2 separate regions of the Homo sapiens genome follow, and region 2 is linked to region 1. The links come from fine-mapping of genetic effects on gene expression. A gene starts in region 1. The other region holds a variant in brackets. All regions are shown on one strand. Distances are between the middles of the regions. Region 1 holds the start of SPATS2 (spermatogenesis associated serine rich 2). Region 2 overlaps SPATS2 (spermatogenesis associated serine rich 2).

Evidence for each region. PIP is the estimated chance that this variant, and not a neighbour inherited with it, causes the effect.
Region 2: its variant is the best candidate, but not a certain one, in a credible set for the expression of SPATS2 in thyroid (GTEx, PIP 0.63).

The regions. Positions count from the first base shown.
Region 1 is chr12:49,365,946-49,368,858 of GRCh38, reverse strand. It overlaps SPATS2 (spermatogenesis associated serine rich 2), which reads right to left and starts at 1,397. Exons shown (of 14, transcript NM_023071.4): 1 at 1,272-1,397. RefSeq lists silencers at 1,118-1,187, 1,218-1,267, 1,288-1,767 and an enhancer at 2,058-2,317.
Region 2 is chr12:49,505,057-49,507,969 of GRCh38, reverse strand. All of the region lies in intron 9 of SPATS2 (spermatogenesis associated serine rich 2), which reads right to left. Among named protein-coding and RNA genes, the nearest start is that of KCNH3, 33 kb to the left of the region's middle. The variant T/CT (reference allele first, on the strand shown) is at 1,647.

The DNA of each region.
Region 1 (2,913 bases):
TCTTAGATGAGTCAGCAAAACTTAATGCCCAACAAATAAAAGGCTTAACATGGACTACTTAGGAGCACACAATGGTCATTACAATTTCAAAATCGGCAATTTTCTATCTAGTACAATCACAAATTTGGTCTGGAAATCCAAATATTAAGGAAATGCAAACATCATAATCAATATTCCCAAATCACCTTAATTGAAACTGGAAGGTATGAGGCAGCCTATTTGAAGTTAACATCAAGAAATAATTTAAGGCAGAACCCCAACTCTCTCCCACAAACACAAAACCAGTAGCAGATGGCACAAGAACATTTCTCAGTGAGAAATTGCAATTCTAACAAAGTACAGGTAACTTAATTTTATCCATCACCTTTTGGTCAAACTGAAAACAAACAACCAAGCTTTTGGTTCTCTCCAAAACACTGAAATCTGCATTATCACTGACCTAACTTAAAGCAAGATATTTTTGGTGATCTGTCCTCTCCTGCTTCATTAACCGTAGGTAAATTAGGAACAGTAGCCTGCTAAACAGAGGGGAAGTAAATATCACAGGCATGTTTTATCAATAAAATGGACAAGCGATAATCAAATTATTTAAAGAACGGCTTGTACTCCTTAACAGAGGGACAAGCTTGAGAAAGATCCACTTTCTAAAAGAACCTAATCATTCTGGATGAATTATGAGAAAAATATCACTGTAGTCCAAAACTGACTGAATCTACCTTTCTGCTTTAATCCAAGTCCTAACCACATCTATTTTATGTCTCTGCGTCTGTTCGCCTGATTTTCCATTTCGTCTCCCCCTTCAATTCCAAGAACGCCCTTCTCTCCCTTATTTTCAAATCTCATTATTGCCCCCGAATGCTAAGGACCTCGCACAGCCACGGAGGTGACCTTACGCATCCCTACTGCATTCCTAATTCATTGTACTTCTCATCCCAAATGATCCTATTCTTTCGTTCTATCTCGCTCGTTGTTTCTTAAAATCCAATACCCCACACACGCTCACGCCAGAGTCCCCCCCACACTCCATTGTTTCCCCGGCCTATCCGTCTGGAAACTCCCCAACTCCGACGCGGGTGTTTCACCCGCCCCACAGACCCCAGGAACCTTCCACCCTCTGGGCACTTCGGGCCTCTAAGGGCTCACATCCCCCTCCTTCCCGTCCCCCCGCCCCCAACTACCCCCTCCCTCTTTTTCCTCCCTCAACCCGCTCCCCGCACCTCGGCGCCCTCTGAGCCCCCGCCAACCCCGCCACCCAGCACCCTTAGCCTCACCTAGCCCAGGCCCCCGCAATCGCCTCGTCGCCCCAGCTCCGGGCTCCGCGTCCCGGACGCTCCCGGGTCTGAGAAGAGGAAAGGAGATCCTCCACCTCCCCTTCTAGAGCCACCGCCGCCGTCGCCGCCGCGCTCCTCCCCCAGCTCTCTCAGAGCCGGACGCCGCCCCGCCCCCACCGCCGCCTCCCCACTTCTCTCCTGGGCCGGACTGCAGGATGCTGCCGGAGATCCAGCAGATCACCCCGACCCTCGCCCAGGCAGCGGCTCGCCCCGCCCCGGAGCCCTCTCGGGCGCGTGCGCGCCAGCCAGCCAGCCAGAGCTCAGGGCGCGTACTCGCGCCGGCGCGAATCCGGCGCGCCAAGCTCGAGGCTGTGGCAGCCAACGGGTGCGCGAGCGCGGCTCGAGCGGCGAGACGGCCCGCGCACCGGAGACCGAGAAGATCGGGGAGAGGCGCGGGGCGGCGAGAGGCGGGCTCCGACCAGTCGGGTTACCGCTCTTCTCGGGGCCCGGTCCCTCGCGTCTCGCACCGTCCGCAGGCTCGCGCGCCACCGGAGACTGGGAATTACCGGGGAAAGGAAGAGACTCGGGGAGAGGGTTGGGGACAAAGTAGATGGAAGGGGAAAACGGGTGGGACGCGAGCTCGCGTCCGCGTGCAGCACAGCTCGTACCCGGCGGCATCGGTTAGGGACCCGGCGCGCGCCGGGAACGGAGGGCCCGAGCTGAACTGACGGAAAGAGCCGAAACTCCCCCGGAGGTGGCCGAACGCGGGCGCCGCTAGGGGAGTCGAGCGCGGGGCTTTTGCTCAATGTCCGGGTTGGGAAGCTTTTTCTCTGGCCGCCGGGTACAGCGCCGCTCACTCTTCCGTACCGAGGACTTCACACCGCTTTCCCCTTCGCCTCCTTCCCGACCCAAGTTTTGTTCCAAAAGGCAATTTCAGAGTCGCCAACGACGGGAAACGCTGGGGCCTCCGGACCGCGCGGTCGCTCTGCCTCCTGAGAGAGCGCAGAGGCCGGTGGGGGCGCGGGAAGAATGACCTCGGGATCGTCAGTCGGGTTTCTGATCTACCCAGCTGTCAGCATAGCCCCTCTACGCGGCGGTGGTCGGTCCCGCCGCCCTTCGAATCTTTTCTGTTAAATACTCTCTTCGACGCCAGACTCCCAACCTCCCTGGTGCTGGAACTAACTAGTATTTGTGCACCCTTTCTGCATGCATAAAGCACTTACCTCAGTGTCGACTGGTCAGGGGTCTATTAAGAGGGGCCAGAGGGATTTAGACAGTCAGCATTGAAAATATTTATTAGAATCTGGGGCCGGGCGCGGTGGCTCACGTCTGTAATCCCAGCACTTCTGAGAGGCCGAGGCGGGCGGATGACTTGAGGTCAGGAGTTCGAGACCAGCCTGGCTAACATAGTGAAACCCCGTCTCTACAAAAAATACAAAAATTAGCCGGATGTGGTGGCACACGCCTGTAATCTCAGCTACTCGGGAGGCTGAGGCAGGAGAATAACCTGAACCCAGGAGTCGGAGGTTGCAGTGAGCCGGGATTGCACCACTGCACTCCACCCTCCATCTCAAAAAATATATATATATATTAGAATTTGTCCTCATCTTACCTTTTGAGGCCAAGCAAAGGGGCTCTGAAA
Region 2 (2,913 bases), 140 kb before region 1:
AAAGTTTCTGACATACAATAAAAGCTTAGTAATTGAGCTCAGTAAATAGCGGCAGCAATTATTATTTTAATTCTTGTATTCATCTTGATTTCTCAGTTTCAGCAGAATATCTCTTTAGTAAAATGCAATCGTATTAACCGGTAAATCATTATACATTCCAGATTCATTGTACAGAAATTATTAAATAAACATGTACGCACACTAACACAGTGTAGGCAGTTATGAAGTGATGAATCAAACTAATTTTAAGTGAAAAGATCACATTGAAATTACACTCTCACTGCGATTACAACTATTCAAGAATATGTATGAATATACATAAGGAACACAAGGGAACGCAGGAAATAAAAATTACTTATGTGTTAAGGTGGTAGAATTTTGAGTTTTACTTATATCTAATAAAACGATTATAATTATGGGCAATATAGTAAAAGTAAGAGGGAATAATGAAATCTTTAAAAAAAGGAAAAACAAAATTCAGATCCCTCCATCAAATGCTCTCATTATACCTCAGCCTCTGACTTCATCCCTCGCTACTTTCACTATTGCCCCATAGCAACAGCTAGACTGTGTGTGGTCCCTACGTGTCCCTTCTATGCCTCTGCTCATATCTCTGAAATGCAGTGGTCCACCCCAACCTTTCCGCCAGTGTAAATACCATGCTTTTTACATAGCTTGATAATGATTCATTTCCCCAAAGAAATATTTTCTAATTAACCCCACCCCACAGTGGCCCTGCCTTTAATCTTAAAACCTTTCCCGCTACTCTGATCTGACCTGAAGAATCCCAGAATCACAAGGCACTACAAGTTGTGACTTAAGAATAATAGTGATTTAGGACCTTCTGAATCACAAAATCAAAAGAACATTGAATATTCAGATGGAGTATTCTTATAGTTTTACTTTATTGAACTTAGAAAATACTTTCATAGGCTCAGCCTAAATCCTGGTGCTTCTCATCCTAACCTGTTTCATAATGACTAAGTTCCTTAGTCCCTAAATTCTCCTACATTGGGGTTTCTCTGTTACATAGCCTTTAAGCTGAAGAGGAAACAATACAGATGCTCCTCGGCTTACAATGGGGTTATGTCCCAATAAACCCACTGTAAATCGAAATTTTTTTTTTTTTTTTTAAAGAGACAGGGTCTTGCTCTGTCACCCAGCGTGGGAGTACAGTGGCAAGATCATGGCCCACTGCAGCCTCCACTTCCTGGGTTCAAGCGATCCTCTTGAGTAGCTGGACTATGGGCACGTGTCATTGCGCCCAGTTAATTTTGTTACTTTCTGTAAAGACGGGATCTCATTATGTTGCCTAGGCTGGTCTTGAACTCCTGGACTCAAGTAATCCTCCTGCCTTGGCCTCTGATATGGTTTGGCTGTGTCCCCACCCAAATCTCACCTTCAACTGTAATAATCGCCAAGTGTCAAGGGTGGGGCCAGGTGAAGATAACTGAATCATAGGGGTGGTTCCCCCATACTGTTTTTGTGGTAGTAGGTCTCAAAAGAGCTGATGGTTTTATAAATGAGAGTTCCCTTGCACAAGCTCTCTTGGCTGCCACCATGTAAGATGTGACTTTGCTCCTCCTTTGCCTTCAGCTATGATTGTGAGGCCTTCCCAGCCACGTAGAAGTGTGAGTCAATTAAAC[T/CT]CTTTCCTTGATAAATTACCCAGTCTTGAGTATGTCTTTATTAGCAGTGTGAGAACAGACGAATACAGCCTCCCGAAGTGCTGGGATTACAGGCATGTGCAAATTGAAAATATCTTAAGTTGATAATGCATTTAATATACCTAACCTATTGAACATCAAAGCTTAGCCTAGCCTACCTTAAACATGCTCAGAACATTTATATTAGCCTGCAGTTGGGCAAAGTCATCTAACACAACACCTATTTTATAATGAAGTGTTGAATATCTGATGTAATTTATTAAACACTACACTAAAAGTGAAAAACAAAATGGTTGTATGGGTATACAAAGTATGCTTTCTACTGAATGTGTATCACTTTCATACCATCATAAAGTTGGAAAATTATTAAGTTGAACCATCATAAGTAGGGAACTGTCTGTAATATGACATGTACCAACAGTCTCTAGCCTTGCCAAGCTTTAGTGGGGAAGTGAGCCATCAATGAGGTATGAGATGAAAATCATAGGTTAATAAGTCTGAATATATACATTCAAATATTGGATCTGCAACTTAGGCAAATTGCTTAACCTAAGACATACATTTATTTTCAGTAAAACAGAATTAACAATACCTACTTTGTGGAAAAGAAATCAGGATTAAAAAAATCCAATAATATAACTGAACATGTTCAGTAAAATATTCTTCATATGTTATTACTGGTTGAGCATTCCTAATCCAAAATGCTTCAAAAGCTGTACTTTTTTGAGCACTGACATGACACTGAAAGAAAATACTCATTGGAGCAGTTTGGATTTTGAATTTTTAGATTAGGGATGCTCAACTAGTTTCTGCAGACATTCCAAAATCTGAAAAAAATAAAAATAAAAAACCTAAAACATTTCTAGTCCTAAGCATTTCAGATAAGGGATACTCAACCTGTAATTATTTTCACAGATGGTTAGAGTTAAATTTTAAATAAAAAAATATCAAGAACCATGGTGTCAAGTACTAGTAGAAACAAGATATCAACAAACTAAGCTTCAAAAACCAAAGAATGATTTAGAACTACAGTGCTATGTACATTTTTGATAATACATATTACATTAGCACATTCCTTTATTTCTACACATTTTAGATATTTTTGGAGATAATATTTTGCAGGTAGTTTGGTTCATAAAATGATTCCTAAGTTTTCAGCATCTATATGTGGCCTTTAAATGTAAGGACTTAAAAGCCTTCGGTAAGACTAAGCTTGATTTAACGTTAAAAAAAAAAGCTCTGAGCTGGG